2 separate regions of the Homo sapiens genome follow, and region 2 is linked to region 1. The links come from fine-mapping of genetic effects on gene expression. A gene starts in region 1. The other region holds a variant in brackets. All regions are shown on one strand. Distances are from middle to middle.

Evidence for each region.
Region 2: its variant is fine-mapped to the expression of HMGB3 in whole blood (TOPMed, PIP above 0.99). The same link has a PIP of 0.9 or more in blood mononuclear cells and monocytes.

What each region holds. Positions count from the first base shown.
Region 1 is chrX:150,978,866-150,987,188 of GRCh38, reverse strand. It overlaps HMGB3 (high mobility group box 3), which reads right to left and starts at 3,854. Exons shown (of 5, transcript NM_005342.4): 1 at 3,813-3,854; 2 at 1,440-1,594; 3 at 999-1,138; 4 at 1-61. The coding sequence starts at 1,589. RefSeq lists a silencer at 3,824-4,023 and an enhancer at 4,145-4,840.
Region 2 is chrX:150,764,176-150,772,498 of GRCh38, reverse strand. It overlaps MTMR1 (myotubularin related protein 1), which reads right to left. Exons shown (of 16, transcript NM_001306144.3): 16 at 7,391-8,323. CD99L2 (CD99 molecule like 2) reads left to right here. Exons shown (of 11, transcript NM_031462.4): 10 at 2,130-2,195; 11 at 3,398-6,163. The coding sequence ends at 3,465. Among named protein-coding and RNA genes, the nearest start is that of MTMR1, 75 kb to the right of the region's middle. RefSeq lists enhancers at 1-85, 86-633 and a silencer at 4,702-4,811. The variant T/C (reference allele first, on the strand shown) is at 4,259.

The DNA.
Region 1 (8,323 bases):
GCCGGGGTTTGTGGATTTGATCTTGGGGCGGAATTCTGAACAGAACAGGAAGAATCCAGACCTTGGAAGAATTACATACATTACATGAGAAACCACAAAAAATTTGAGTTAAAGTTGAAATCCCACATTCCTGAGAAGCATCTCCCTCCTACCACTATGACTTCTCCCTAAAGTGAAGTAATCTATGATACCATATACAATGCTACAAAGTTGTAGGTTCTAAAATATATAAGGTTAGAAAAATATGTGGTGCGCGGCTCACGCCTGTAATTCCAGCACTTTGGGAGGCCGAGGCAGGCGGATCACCTGAGGTTGGGAGTTTCAGACCAGCCTGACCAACATGGAGAAACCCCGTCTCTACTAAAAATATAAAAAAAATTAGCCGGGCATGGTGGTGCATGTCTGTAATCCCAGCTACTCAGGAGGCTGAGGCAGGAGAATCACTTGAACCCAGGAGGTGGAGGTTGCAGTGAGCCAAGATCACACCTTGCACTCCAGCCTGGTCAAGAGCGAAACTCCATCTCAAATATGTATGCGTGTGTGTGTGTATGCATATATAAAATATATGCGTATATATACGCGCATATATATATGGTGCTCTGTGTGTGTGTATGCATATATAATACATATGCGTATATATACGCGCATATATATATGGTGCTGTCCCAGTCTTTCAATTACTAGGAAAGGCATAAAGAACATACTTCAAGGACCCTGACAACCAAAACTAGAGTGCCTCCTTCACAATGGAAAGGCCAACAGACAACCACTGTGAATGTGCAAGCACAGCCCACAAACACTTCAGCCTTAACCACAGACAACGCTGGCACTGCATCGTAAAGCCCAAGTACAGAATGGTTTGCAGAGGTATTGCCATCTTTTAAGTATCTTTTAAAAAATATTTCATTTTGAAATGAAATACAGGACGACCAAAAAACCAAATCCTCCAAGCAGAAGAAAAGGTATTAATTGTTATCTTGAATCCTATAGTCACTTACGGTGGCCTTTTGGGAGCATTAGGATCCTTCTTCTTCTTGCCTCCCTTAGCTGGTCCATAATCCTTCATTTCCCGATCATAGCGCACTTTATCTGCCTTTGCCATTTCATCAAATTTAGATTTCTCTTTCCCGGACATCGTCTGCAAAGAACAGGACTCGTTAAATCCCTCGATGCAGTGAACACATACCTATTCAGTTTCTTGTGATTAAACTAGCAGTTGCTAGAACCACTTGCAAAAGGGGGTAGGTAAAGGCCTGAAACCTGTGCAGGGCCTTAAAAAAATAAAAGCACACACACAAAATTCTTAAGACAAGCAAAAATGATTCTAAGTAAAAGTAAAAGAGGAAGCAAGCAGCTATCTGGGAGAAAATCTGAAGGTAAGTAACCCCAAAGTAAGAAACCCAACTAAGACTAGTTTGAAGGGTACCAAAGAAAAATACCTTCCACCTCTCAGAGCACTTCTTGGAAAATTCCGCAAAATTGACAGGGACCTCTGGGTTTTTCTTCTTATGTTCTTCTCTGCATGTCTGCACAAAGAAGGCATAAGCGGACATCTTGCCCTTTGGTTTCTTGGGGTCACCTTTAGCCATCCTGACTGTGATAAAAGAGAAACAAAGAAATACAATGAGGAAAAGCAAGGAGGAATTGACAAGAAGTACAAGACGTACCAAAGGCAGAGCAAAACTAAAACTACACTTGCTGTTAGGAAGTCCCCTTCCCCCAATGCCGGACACCAGTGGCAGAAGGCAGAGTAGGAAAGAAATCAGCTTCATTGTCGCTTGTCATTTAACTTTTGACCAGCACGAAGCGCGCTGGTTTGCGAGTTACTTCTCAAAAGCGATCAAGTGCTCCAAATGGAGCCGACCCAAGTAGGGTACTCAGTGTTACGTTTACAGAACTGCTATGTTTTGGAAACTACAATCACAAAGTGGGAAGGGTAGAGAGAGGACACATTTGGTGGGGGTGATAGAAGCTTGAAATCTATGACTTAAGACTATCTGGTCATCTGCTAACTGTTAACACAATTAAAAACAACAACTCTTACCACTGCTGAACACAAGACCAAAGCAGGAGAACTATACGTAGGGGACATCTGAAATTGTCACTATTGTTGATGTGTTTTGGCTTACTAAAAAAACGGCTTTACAACACGGGAGATCTGGAAAGTGAGCAGGTACCCCCGTACTATTAGTTCAATTCATCACTTCGTCACTATCTAAAGGGGGAGGGTGTATAAAAAGGGCTAGTCGTGCTCATCTGTAACCCAGAATGCAGGTCCAGCCGAGAACACTTTCTCCAAAGTTTCCAAATAAAAATGCAGCTGCGGCATGTCATCGTCCCTGTCCCACCCCCCAGCTTCCCGCCATCTTTTCCTTTTCCCACACCCAAGGTCATCATGTAAAACTAAAGAGCTCCCCTTGGCAGCAGCCGCCCAGGAGGCTGCCCAACAGAGACCCGCAGCGGCGGCCCGGGCGGGGCGGGACCGGGAGCGGGGGAGTCCCGGCCGGCAGCAGGCAGCCCGCCTCGGCCCCCGTGCCGGGTCACCGGGACACCCGTAATTCACCTTCCATTTTGTCAAAAGCCTCCTGATGAAAGAAAGTGCCCCTGAAATCCGCCGCTGTCATCCCCGGGGGACGCGCGGGGCCGGGGGCGGCGGCGGTGGCGGTGCGCGGGGGGTGTGCGGCCGGGCCGGCGGCAGCCGCGGCACTGGTGGCGGCGTCCGCCGCGCCTCGGAGTCCCACTCGCTAAAATGGCTGATCCGCGCGCGGCCGGCGCGGGCGGCGGCGACAGCGGCGAACAAAGCGGCCCGGGCCCCGCCGCCGCCGCCCGCCCGTCGGCCCCCACCCCGCCCCGCCCCGCCCCGCCCGGGCCGCCCGGGGGCTCGGGGGCCCGGGCCGGACCTCCCCGCCCCCCGGCGCGGGGCGCACTCCTCGGGATAACAAAGGCGCCCGTGCAGCCATGACGCTCGGCCGCTCCAGGGCCCGCAGCGGCGCCCCCGGCCCTCCGAGCCGCCCGCCCCGGGCCGCGGGCGCCGGGGCCGAGGCCGGAGCCCGCCGGGCGCCCCGCCGACCGCTCCGCCCGCCTCCCCTGCCCTCGCCGGAGGCCAGCGCCGCGCCAGCCATGTTAGCGGCGGCGGCGGCGCCGGGCGGGCGGGAGGCGAGAGGGGGGCGGCCGGCCCGCGCCCCCCCGGGCCACCGGGCGCTCCGCGACGGCCATGTTAACGCAGAGCCAGCGGCGTAGCCTGCGGGCCCGCGCGGCGCCGGGCCAAGCCCGGGAGCGAAGTTTGCCCGTGCGGCGGCCCCCGGCGGGCACCAGCCGCGCAGCCCCCGGCGGGCACCGGCCGCCCGTTCCCCAGCGGAGTCCGTCGCGGGCCGGGGAACTCCCGGCCCCCTTCCCGCTGCCGCCGCCCAGCGCCCACAGCCCGCAGCCGCCCCTCTGCTCGCCCAGCCGCCGCAGCCGCAGCTGCCCAAACATCTGGCCTCGGGGGCCCTGGGTTCCCGGCTGCGGCCCCTGGGGCCGCCACGGGCGGGCGTCCGCCGAGGGGGCCGACCCCCGAAAGCGGGGAGCTCGGGGAACGCGTTGGAAAAGTTGAAACACCTGAATTGCTTCTTCCTTCCCGGCCGCCTAGCAGGAGGGAAGGCGGAGGGGGCGGGAAGGGAATGGGGAGTAGAGGCAGGGGGAGGCGGCGGCAGGGCGCGCTCACGGCGGCGCGGGCCGGAAAGTTGTGCGGGCGCTGCGGCGGCGGCGGCGGCGGCGGCGGCGGCGGCGGCGGCGGCGGCGGCGGCGGCGGGAGCGGGCGGTGCGAGACGTACCTGTATTGTTCGCTAGTCTGGGCAGCGCAGGGCACGACGCGCGGCTCAGCGCTCCCCAGCCTCGCGCTAGCTGCCTCCACGAGAGCCGCCTGATTGGCCAGCGGGCTCTGCCGTTTAAAACAGCCTCCTCGCCTGGCCATTGGCTGCGGGCCTCATGCATATTAAGCAGGCGTGGACGCCCATTGGGCGCGGCTGCTGGGATCATTCATTCAAACAGAACGACCCGCCGGCGCCGGCTACGGAGGCCAAACAGGGAAAGACCTAGTCTCGCCTGCCCGCCCCGCCCACCTCGCCAGCCCCCTCGGGGAACAGAACTGGGATCGCCAAGGGCTTTGAAGAGGTGGCCCTGCGATTCCCGGAGGCCTCGGCCTCTGGCGTGGGAAGATGAAGTCCAGCCCCGCTGCGCTGCCCTCTGCTCCCACCGCACCGCGGCCTTGGCGCCCCTGGCCTGCAGTCAGCTCCCCTGCCCGGGGAAACACCCCTGGGCCCACCACGAAGGGCCGATGGTAGACCACCTCTACCCGGTTCGGCCGCGGCGCCGCGACAGAAACGCGGCGGCAGCTCGCTCCTCGATGCCTGGCGGAGGGCAGCTGCTTGCTCGCCAAGACCTCGGGATTTAGTCCTCGGATCTCGCTGCCTATCCGAAAGCCACCTGATTCCGCTTCTGCGGATCGTGCTCAACTAGGCTCTTTCCACTAAATGCCAGAAGGTCTTTATTTGCGCCCGAAATTGCGGAACCGACGGGCTAAAAGAGGAAAACAAAATTTGGCAAGAGCAGAGAATTTGTGAGAAATTGTAGTTTTGTGGGCAAAGAATAACACTTTTCTTCTTACCCTCTTCACTGTCTCGGTTCAAGGCCCTCATTCCCTCTGCTCTCCTGACACACCCTAGAGCAAAGAATTAAAGCTTCGGGAATGAATGAGTGAATGAATGAATGAATGGGATTTGACTTGATCTCCACTTTGCCATTGGCTGGTGGTATGGCCTTGAGCTAGTCACTTCTTTGGGGATTCAGGCAATGTTTTTCAAAGTATAGGAGCCGCAGTGTCACTTCTGTAAGGGATGTTCTGAAATTCGTGGGGCCGGTGCCTGGATGACTGGCAGGTGTTGCTGGAATTCAATAAGAGGAAGGAACGGCCGGGGATACTAAATATCCTACATTGCATAGGACAGTCCCACGCAAGGAAGAAATACTCCACTTCAAATGCAAGTATCAGCCCTATTTGGAAAGAAAGTATCTGAGGGCCCTTGCCTGGAAAGAATGAAAGGGTGAGAAAAAGAGCAGTTTAAAGATTGACAGTTGGAGAAAATAATGCAAAGGAAGAGATGTCATGAGTTTGGTTTTTCTTTTCTTTGAAAGGCCAAGAGATCCAGCTATTTATGAGTCCTATATTCAGAAATAAGCCCCACCAGAACATGAATTTTCCAAATGCTGCTTCCAGAAACCGTGGCTGAGTTTGAGGTGTGCAAAGGATCTGGCTTCACAGGGCACCTGCTTCTTCACCCCTACGCCCCCTCTTACCAACTCCTCTGAGCCTCCCAGCCAAGCCTGAGCCCCTGAAGCTGGTGCTGTTGGCTCCCATCATCAAGGTTCCAATCCAGATCAAAAGGCAAAGATAGAGGCCAAGCGCGGTGGCTCATGCCTGTAATTCCAGTACTTTGGGAGGCTGAGGCAGGCGGATCACGAGATCAGGAGTTCAAGACCAGCCTGGCCAATCTGATGAAGCCCCGTCTCTACTAAAAATACAAAAAAATTAGCCAGGTGTGGTGATGCATGCCTGTAGGAGGCTGAGGCAGGAGAATCGCTTTAACCTGGGAGGTGGAGGTTGCAGTGAGCCAAGATCATGCTACTGCACTCCAGCCTGGGCAACAGAGCAAGACTCCGAAAAAAAAAAAAAAAAGGCAGAGATAGTGCTGCTTTTGACAAGAGCAGGCAGGTATTGTGTCACTAACCCAGGTCCCCACTACAGACTCAGGAGTTCAGAGATCTTAAGGCCACCTCATCCATCCCTCTGTCCTGTTAGAACCAGCTTAGTGGTTGCCTGCCTTCTGCTTGCATACCTCCACTCATAGGGAGCTTACCATCTTCCTTCATGGCAGTTCCTTCCATCTCCAGCCACCTCTGAGCCTTAAGGTCAACATCTCCACACAGGGTAATCCCTCACCCTTCAGATAGTTCATGGCAGGCCAGGCCTTTTCTCCAGACAGACAGCCCCTCCCTGCTCCTTCTACAAGCAGTTTCCCAGGGCCTGACCTGCCCAAGCCACTCCCTCTTCCCCTGTCTCCACAAGGCCTAGAGGGGAGCAGGGTTTCCACAAGTGATCTGACCAATACCTCGCCTCTGCCAGAGCACCCTAGCCTCTCAAGGTTGCCAGGCCTTTCTAGACCAGAGATTCAAGTTGGGGTCCAGCTACTGCCCAGCAACTGCCCACAGTGGCAAGTGACACGGCACAGTTGGCAGGCACCTTGGTGGGGGAACCAGGGTGGTGGGCCCTTGGATGGATGACAAGGGTCACACAAGCCCATGCCAACTCACAAGCAGCACATGTATACACGTACTCACGTATGGGCACACCCAGGGCATTCCCAGAGGCAGCAGCTTCAAGGGCAAACCAGAGAAATAAGAGCATCTCCCAACCCAAACTGGCCCCCAGTTGCCACCCTCAAGATCCATGCTTCCCTGCCCCACTGCCCCAACCCTGCCCATTGACCATCTATTTCTCCCCACATACTTCGAATGATGAAAGGATTGCGCTTACGCGCAGGAAGTATTTCCATCCTTTGCATAGGAAATATTTCGATCTCTGCTCTCAAGAAAGCTACCTCTTATATGGAGCTGAAGCACTTGGCCTGAAGCTGAACTACAAACTGGTCATCGTCAGAACATGAACTCACAGAACATGACTATGACATCACTGAGTGACAGAGATCCAAAGATGGCTCCCTGCTCCTCCCCATCCCCCCAGCCACCCACCTACCAATGGAGGCTCCTCACAGCCAGATTTTCTCCTTAACACCTGCCCGTGTGCGGCGACATGCCTGAGCAAGGCCTGTGGCCCAGTGGGCTCCTGCCTTAGCAGAAACTTTCATGTATATGTATTGCATGTCTACTAATCAGTAACAGAAGGGAGATGAGATGGAGTGGGGAGTAAGGCTGGAAGGAAGGGACAAGATAGAGGCTTTGGGCTCTGTCACTGATTTCCTGGTATGCCTTTTCACATGTCACCTGAGGGCTCCGAGCCTCAGTGTCCTCTATCAAAGGTGATTCCACCCGCCTCATCCACCCAGACCACTGCCAGTCTTGGTGGTGAGGGAGACTGAGTGAAGACGGTCTGCTTGTCACCAGTCAAAGGCCAACCAGGAGAGGCCTAAAGACTAGTTTGGAAGGTGAAAAAAAGAAAGAAAAGGTGACAGAAAGCCAGGGATGCCTGGGCACACCCTAGACTCAGGGAGCCCAAGGCAGGCTGCCTTCTCTGCAGCAAAGCTCAATGCCCGTTAGCTTGAGGATACCTCCAGCAGCAGCACCCAGGTCAGCGTGCAAGGGCTTGAGGGAATGAAGGATACTCTAGGCCTCTGCCCGGGCCCTACCTGGAAACAGGCAAAGCCCATCCACACAGGAGAACCTCAAACCAGAATCCCTTAAGCTGCTTGGCTGCCTAGAGAAGTTACGAAAACATTAAATAAGAAATGGGATGAAGTGTGGCAAATGCTATTTAAAGAGGTTTTCAGTTCCTGTCAGTTCAAGGCCCCTAAAAGACTAAGGGGAATCCTCATCGTTCAACAAAAATGAAACCCTGGTCCCCTGGCCCACTGCCTACACACTCCACCCACCCTCCCACAGTTCCCAAAGTCTTCATTTGAGTACCTTGGGCCAACCCAGCCTCCTTTTAAGAATCATGCCTGGCCGGGTGCGGTGGCTCACGCCTGTAATCCCAGCACTTTGGGAGGCCATGGTGGGCAGATCACCTGAGGTCAGGAGTTCAAGACCAGCCTGGCCAACAAGGTGAAATCCCATCTCTACTAAAAATACAAAAATTAGCCTGGTGTGGTGGCACCTGCCTGTAATCCCAGCTACTCAGGAGGCTCAGGGGGGAGAATCGCTTGAACCTGAGAGGCTGAGGTTGCAGTGAGCAGAGATGGCGCCACTGCACTCCAGCCTGGGTGACAGTGTGAGACTCCGTCTCAAAAAAAAGAAAAAGAAAAAAAAAAAGAATCATGCCTGTAGGCCAAATGTGGTGGCTCACGCCTGTAATCTCAGCACTTGGGGAGGCCAAGGTGGGTGGATCACCTGAGGTCAGGAGTTCGAGACCAGCCTGGCCAACATGGCGAAACCCCATCTCTACTAAAAATACAAAAATTAGCTGGGCGTGGTGATGGGCACCTGTAATCCCGGCTACTCAGGAGGCTGAGGCAGAGAATTGCTTGAACCCAGGATGCACAGGTTGCAGTGAGCCAAGATCGTACCACTGAACTCCAGCTTGGGTGACAGAGTGAGACTCTGTCTCAGGGGA
Region 2 (8,323 bases), 210 kb after region 1:
CCTCCATAGGCTTCCCAGAGGCCTTTCACTTCCCGAGGGCGCCAGGTGCTCTTCCATCCCCATCCCGGGCCTCTGCTGTCCCCCGTCCTGACCTAGCTCCTCTCGCCCTGCAGGCCTGGAGCAGCCTCTCCCAGCCTGTGGTCCTACAGCGCCCCCTGCTGACCTCACCTGGTGCTCATGGGGCGGGATTGGGCCGGTTGGTTTCTGAGTGTGCGACTCCCAGCTCGCCTTGCCCCCTCCGTGATCAGGAGTCTCTGGACCGTCCATTCCGTGGCGGGGCTGCGTGTACATCATGTCCCTGGCACCTGGCCCGGGCCAGAATCAGGAGGAGTCCCGCAGACGTTTGTGGGGTGGCTGAAAACACTGAGAAGCTGGGGGTTGGGCCTCCTGTCCCCACTCTTTCCCCTGAGTCTCAGCCACTGCCACATGGAGATGGCGGTAGAGGGGACCGGGGTGCAGAACACCAAGCTCTGGGGAGACAGCAGGAGGTGGCTGCGAGGAAGGCCTGCCCCCACCACTGTGGCCCTCAGGTGCTCTCGGCCTCTGCTGCTGCCAAAAGGCCCATGCTGGGGACCCTTGGCTTCCCTTGCCTTTGCCCTCAGTGTGGAAAGCCCGCATGTTTGCTGTCAGGAGCGCTCTTACTCCAGGGATTCTAAGCTTTGTGTCTTGCCTTCAGATGCAGCAGCAGGTCAAGGTAACGCTGCTTTGCCTTCCTCACTTTCCTTTTGCTTCAGCCTTGATGCTTCCTCATTCGCCCCCTGCTCTGGCGCTTCCTTGCCGCTCTTCTCCCTCCTGCTTCCCTGGCACTCACCGACGTGGCTGTAACCAGGACCATCTTTAGCTTACCCTGATGCGTGTGAGAGGATGCCACCTGCCAGACACTCTGTCCCCAGGCTGGATGTGGCAGGGGTGGGGGGAGAGTTGAGGTGCCATGGTGAGGACTCAGGTGCCCACTGGTGGTCATGCCTGGGGAGCACATAGAGGGCCACCCACAGGAAGGAGACGATCCAGCGCCCACTGGGTTGGCAGCTAGCAGTGATCACGAGGCTCAGGGTGTGTCTCCTGGCCCCCACCTGTCAGCTGGGAAGGTGCACCTGGGGCAGCTTCCACTGCACTCATCACCTGCCCCGCTCTGCGTGGGGCCGGCCACACCTGCCAAAGAGCAACGCCCGCATTTGCCACAGGCCCATTTGGCTCCCACCTCAAGCCCAGCAGCCACCGGGGCAGGCAGGTGGTGGGCATTCTTGTTTAGGCAAGGAGCCTGTAGCCCAGGACGATGGCTTGACTTGCACTGGTGCCTGGTCGGTCGGTCGGTCGGTTGGAACCATGCCCCAGTTTTCCCACAGACCCGGGGCTGAAGGGTTCCAGTCCCTGTGCTACGCAGGGATGAGACACAGACTCTTGACTCTCTGCAAGCAGCAGCAGGGGTGGGGTCCACTCTAAGAACTTGAACACTGGCCCTTGCTGGCGGGAGGGAATGCTTGGTACAGTCCCCGAATCCCTCTTGTAACAGGTGTAGAGAAAGCCTAGATAACTAACTAGACTGAAGCAGCTGCTGGTGGGCTGGCCCCTCCAAGCTCAGGTGGACACAGCGGTTATTCCTGCTGCTGGGAGGAGCAGTTGGCCTCCGCGCGGGTGTTGCTGGGAGGCTGCATGTTGGCAGGAGGCTTTGCTGCATCTACATGCTGAGCCCCACTCAGCCATCCGCCCCTCCCTGCCCTGCATCCATCAATCACTCATAGCGATTGGCTCCCTGGCCCCCGGGCCGCACACGCACACGGACCTGTGGATGGTGCTGAGCCCTGCCATCGGGCGCCCCCTCCACTGGGCGGAGCTGCCGTCTTGACGCGGTGGCAGCTGCCCTATGAGGATGGAGTGCCGGAAGCCTTCGCTGCATGTCGTTGTTATTTCTGAGGACGATGATGAGAACTCCTGGGCAGTGAATTCTGGGACGAACAGTCTTCATCCGGATAAGGATGTTCAGGTGGCTCAGGGTGCAGGGTTTTGAGTTCCCCAGGGGAGCTGTGCTGCTTTTTTAGCTGCAGAGGACTTGGTCAGGAGTTCTCAGTCACGATTGGGGACCCTTAGGTCCTGTGCGCATCACTAACTCTGCCCTTTTCCCTTTGCAGAGGGTCTCAACGCAGACTACGTGAAGGGAGAGAACCTGGAAGCCGTGGTATGTGAGGAACCCCAAGGTGAGAACTTTGTACTCACTGTCCCTTGCTGACGCTTTCCTAGTTGGTCCCAGCACTGAGCAGAACTGTGCTAGAGAAGCAGGGAAGCACAGAGGCGTCTGCTTCTAGAATGTCCGGCCAGAGCAAAAGCCTGCCCTGATGAGCCTGCCTCCCAGTTTCAGGAGCCCAAAGATGCTGGGGTGACAGCCAGGGCCATCTGCTGCCATGCCTGTGACTTCTGGGCATTGCGGCTGCTCGGCCCCTGCCCTTGATTCGTCCGTCCGAGCCAGAGCCCCAGGCACCTCTGCTCCCCATCAGCGAATACAATTACATCCTGAACAGAGCCATGGGGAAGCTTTTCACCTAGACCTAGAACTTTTCCCTTTGCAAATTGCCACAGGCAAGAGGGAACTTGGGTAAAACCCAGACCCTATTGTCAACACCTGTGCCCCTCCCTCCCCCTTCTGTGGTCATCAAGCACTTTCTGGATTCAGGAGCTGTTGGCAATTTGAGGTCGCATAAGTTCAGGCCACAGGCCTAGAGTGCCCAACTGCTCGAGGCAGATATGACCTGTGCCCACGGGATGCCAATGAGGAGGTCCGGAAAGGCTTGCTGGGGTCGGGGAGCAGCCGAGGCCTGGTGGCGCAGGCAGGGAGACTAGGACAGCTCAGGCGAGTGTTGCCAGTGGAACTACAGTGCAGCAGCCGTGGGGACTGGGCCTGGGAGACCAGGAGGGGCTCAGCCTGTGTGGTGTGTACTGGGAGCCAGGTGCCCTACAATGCTGCTGAAGACGGGTGGCAGTGCTGCACCAAATGAACTAAAATAGGCCTGGGTTCAGATGTGGAAAAATGGATTCCGCTGTCGCATCCACTGTCATGAGCTTTGCCACGGTTAGCCACCACGAGGCCAGCATCTGTGTGGGCAGGTGCTAGGTTGAGCCCTTTGTTTAAAATAACCCTTCCAGCAGCGCTGGCAGGAACACGCTCATTTTTTAGGTGAGGAGATGGAGGCTGAGCTGTTTCCAGAGCCTGTCCAGCTTTCTCTTTCTCTCCCCTTGACCGGCCCAAAACTGCTCCCAGGCTCAGGAGGGAAGGTTGCTAAGCGGCCCCCCAGGGGATACAAAGGGAAACCCAGTTCTGTTCCCAGCACGGGCTTGCTGCTGTATTTGCTTCTTCTGTGCAAGACAGAGCAGAATTCCTTCTGACGGCCTCTTTTTCCCCTAGTGAAATACTCCACGTTGCACACGCAGTCTGCAGAGCCGCCGCCGCCGCCCGAACCAGCCCGGATCTGAGGGCCCTGTCCAGCTGCAGGCATGCACAATGGTGCCACCGCTTGTCACCCGGCTCCCCCCACCCCTTCATTTGGACCCGCAGCTGCTGTGCTGCTCTGTGCCATCGGCTCCTTGTTGGTCTGAGTTTCCCGGATGAGCTCTGGGTGTTTGTGAGTTTGGTTTCTCTGCCCTGCCCCAAGCGTGCTGAGACTTGGTGCCGAAATTCAAGAGCCAGCTCTGATAGAAAGCCAGCACCAGCCTCGGGAGCTGCTGAGCCACCAACTCCCAAAGCCAGCCTGCCTCCAGCTTTACTGAGCACAGGATGCGGGGGCCAAGATGATGCTGAGGCCTGATGACATTTATGCTTAGGGGACAAGAGTTTGAACTCAAGGGACTGTGACCCCTGCACACTGGAGTGGCTCATTGTGGCAGGTTTCTGCCAATAGACAGCCCCTGACAGTGGCCTCAAGGAGCTGCAGGTGGGGGGCTCAGCCTGCACCCACTTGGAGCCCCTGCAAGGAGCGAACCGGTCAGCACCAAGTAACACCACACACACGCAGCACCCAGGATGATGGTTTCACTTCAGTCTTCCCCATCCCAGGTTTTATGTTGCTGGGCTTCCGGAGAGCCGGTCCAAGCGGAGGCTTTCAGTGATTTAAGTACAAACATGCATCTCGTGATAGTCCTGCCTTGAGAGCTTAGGAATCTTCCGGATAAGTATGAAGCAATTCGTAGGCCTGTTTCCCATCTGATTCCATAGGGGGCTGGGTGTGGCCTTCGGGTTGACATGAGAAAGGTCTTTAGCAATCATTTC[T/C]GCACCGGAGATGAGTTTTATCCTGTGTTGGGGAGAGGTGCTCACCCTCCACCCTGTGTCCCTGTTTTGGTAGCAAGAGTGACCGATGTCAAGAACGAGCATCAAAGCCAGAATCCTGCTTGTTTGCTTAAAAATGTAATTGGGGGCGGCGGGGGAGGAGAGGGGAAAGAGACATTCGCTTGGTTTAGTGAAACGCAGGTGACTTTGTAGCTCTGTGGTCAGCCTACTTGTCTGCTCTGAGGGAGAGTGCGTGGGGAGCCATGCTCACCGTGGCAAACACAGGAACCCCATGACTCGCCCCTCACCTGGCGTGGAGCTGCCTGGTTTGGGCTGGAGCAGAGCTGGTTTCCTGGAATGTTCCTTTGGCCCACATATGGTTCTGTCCCGGTGAGCTCTGTTGTCAGAGGCTCACGGGACAGAACCACATGCTAGGGTCTAGGGCCCCTGTCTACTGATAGTCAGTTTGCTGTGTCAGAAAGCACTTCTGAAAGCAGATATGAGTCACCAGACAGGCAGGATCTTACAAAACTCACGGGCCTCTTTGGTCTGCATGATGGCCCCATGCGTTTCATAGGCTGTCCACTGAGCGGGATTGTCTGCTGAGTGGGATGAGCCAACTCCAGTTTCTTAAGGAAACCACTGGAATCTGCAGCCCCCACATGCATCTGTCTAACGCATGCCTCGTGTTCGTTTTGCAAACATGCCTGTGGTGGAGGGTGGTCAGTTGTAGCCCTGTGCGTCTCAAGGCTGCCTTGTGAGGCCATTCCCAGTGCGTGCCCTTGAGCTCCTTACCACCCCTTTTCCTGCTCGGCCCTTTAATCCCTGACAGACCTGGACTGTGTGGCTGAAGGGGGACCTGCAGCACTGCAGAAATGCCTCTGCGTGGTGCCATGAAGGAAAGAAACCTTGGCCTGGTCTCGAGAAGCTTCCCATGCTTCAGGAAGTTAGTAAGGGTGGGGTGGCTTGCAGGATTGGCCTGTTTCCAGGGCCTCCCACACTCATTGGCCAGATTGTGAACTTTGTCAGGCTTGTCCCTCCCTGATACCAAGTATGTCGAGAACCGATGGCCCCACCCTCTGGCTGGTGCTGGGCCGGAGGTGGCTATGGAGGATTTTGGCATGCGTGGCCTGTCGCCACCTGGACAGCGTGACCTCAGGGGTTGTCCACTTTACCTTTATGGTGAGGCCTGTCGGATGGCTAAGTCCTTGAAACCCTAGAGCTGTGACGTAGAATATGTGCTGTCTGTGAGACCGTGTTCCCAGGAGCACTGACTGCAGTTGAGAGAGACCCATTTTGCTCTCCCTTACCGCCCCCCGCCCCGGGTGCTTTCTGCACAAAGCCTAGAGCCTGGCACTCAAGCCCACCGGTGGCAGCTCCTAGTGACTGGACATGCCTGGAAGACCCCTCAGCCTTCTGTTTGCAGAACGTTCATTTCAGGAGCTTCTCCTTCCCACAGACATCTTACACTTGCTCGACACTGCCACCTGCAGAAGCCTGGCGGGCTCTGGTCACCATGTGTCTATCTGAAGGTTGCACTGGCCAGCATGGGCCTGTCCCAAGCGAGAGGGGAGACACAGTGGACTGAAAGGACTGGTTGAAAGTGGCCAATCTCTATCAGCTTAATTTGGCAGAGAAAATTTGTAACAACTCTGAGCACATGCTGGGTGAAGTCACAGCTCAAGGAAAGATAAAGCTGGGCGGAAGGAGGTGTGCGTGGCTTCTGGGGTGGGACCCAGAGGGGAGGCTCTGGGACAGGGGCTGGGGTTCAGTGCCAGGGCCCTGAGGAAGAAATGGGGACTGATCTCAAAATTCCAGAATTCCCTGTACATCTGTTCACGTGCTTGTGTCCAGGTGTGACTTGTAAACTGTCTAGTGTTTGCATTAAATAAAATGGCACCGAGCAGATTCTTGTCTTCTGATGGTGTTAAGGCACGCCCTTGGTCAAGTGTTGCCACTTTTCCCTAAAGTAAGTAATTTATGATGCAGAGCTGCCCTCCTCCCCCTCCCCCCGCCCCGCCCCCAGCTGAAGGTATTTCTCGAGAAGCTTAGAATTCTTGCATTTACCCCTCAGTGACTGGCTCAGTGTCAGGACTTCCAAGGGTGACTCCTCACCGTACAAGCAGCTAAGGCCAGGGGATGTGGAGCGACCAATGTCCTGGGGTTAGAGAGGGCAGAGGCAGGAGCAGAGTGCTGCGGGGCCGCTCCCGGGCTACATGGGTTGCGCAGTCCGGGGCCTGGAAGCAGCAAAAAGTCCCAGGCTCACAAATCCCAAGTCGACTGCTCTGCCGCCTTCCAAGCAGGCTGGTAACCAGTGGAGGTTCCAGTTAACGCGCAGTTGTTTTTCAACCAGAAAGCTGGGTGAGAAAGGAGCCCTGCACCTCGTCACTTGTTGCAGCCTCATGGAGAGTGGCCCGTTTGGGATGAAGTATGTCCTTCTCATCAGCTCGCATGTTGGCTTCAAATTGAGAAGACGACAGTTCAGTTCAGGGCATTTCAGCATGAAAACAAACAAGATGCAGTGGACCCTGGGTTTTAACATGGAGGTCGGTTGTTTGTTTTTTCATTTTGTTTTGCCAACCTCGGCTTCTAGTGAAATAATAGCATCAGGTCCTCTCAAACCCGAGACCACCATATGCCTGTCTCGTGCAGGAGTTCTGCATGGCTAGCTGCTATGGTCTCACTGCTGGGGAAGGCTGGCTGGCAAGCAGTCCCCTGGGCATCCTCTGTGCCCAGTGAATACCGGGCTCTCTGGCTCACTCAGTAGTAACGTGTGTGGAGAGGGACAGGGACCCCACACCCTTAACAAGAAGACCGACAACACACAGAGGGCACAGGGGGTGGTGTGATTTCATCCAGGCCTTCGTGGCCCTGAAAAGGTGAACGCCCCTTCCTTTGGGGTGGGGGCAGTCTGAGGCCTTAGAGAGCACTGCACTTGCATGCGAAGGACTCATCACCCTGACTGGCTCCTCTCAGGTGTCTCCAGACCTTTCCCCAAGTCGTCCACGTTTTCTCAAGGTTAGAGCTGAGGGCGTTTCTGACTTTACAATCATCAATCAATCAATCAATCAATCAATCAGTATTTCCTGTTTCAGCCAAAATACTTACTTACTTACTTACTTACTTACTTAAGACTCATGATACATTTACAATTTACTGAATGAATTAAATCACATAAAGTTAGTTACTTTACATCATCATATATTAACTGTGCTTGACGCACAGTAAACATTCAATCCATGTTATTTTATTACCGATTTTCCTCAAAGGAAAAATCTACTAAGATACTTACTTACTTACTTAAAAAAGACCAGGGAGCAAACATATGATCATTTTAATTACAGATGATTGAAATACAGTGCAACAGATGAGACAAATACAATACTGTACCAGTTTTTAAAAACCTGAACCATAACGGCTTCGCATTCTAGTACACTTACTTACTTAAAACAAAAATTGCTTAGATAACAAAACTATACTTCAAGTTGTTTTAGAAACAGTTCTGCGCTAGGAACATACAAAGGAAAATGACCCGTTGTGCTTCTTTAAAATCGAATGAGAGTCTCCTCTAGGGTCCTGCTGACAGAGCCCCCCCCAGCCTCCGCCAGGTGAGGTGCACAGGGCCCACTCCAGGCACCAGCTCCCCCCAACTTGGCTTCTCTGGTTTGTCGAAGGCATCATCCAGTCCACACTATGTTTAACAGTCCTAGTCAGCCAGGGGATTACATATTTCTGGGAAGAAAATGGCAAATGTCCCCATTAAAAAAAAAATCAGTATATCAATAATCCAGTATATCCATTCATAAATAAGCTTTCAGATATGTTAGGAACATAAAAGCTATTGTTGAACACGACTTAGCAACAAATCCCACATATGATAAAAAATGGAGAATTGATTTTAGGTTATCAAATTACCTTGAATAAATCTCTCTGGTATCTTCTTATAGAAGGATAATTTTCCGTAAGAATCAGGAGGTTCCCAGTTAAAAAAAAATCCATTCTTTCTCTCTCTACGAAAAAACCCTTAACATATTTTCAAAAATAATAAGGTCAATCTGTAGGCCTTTG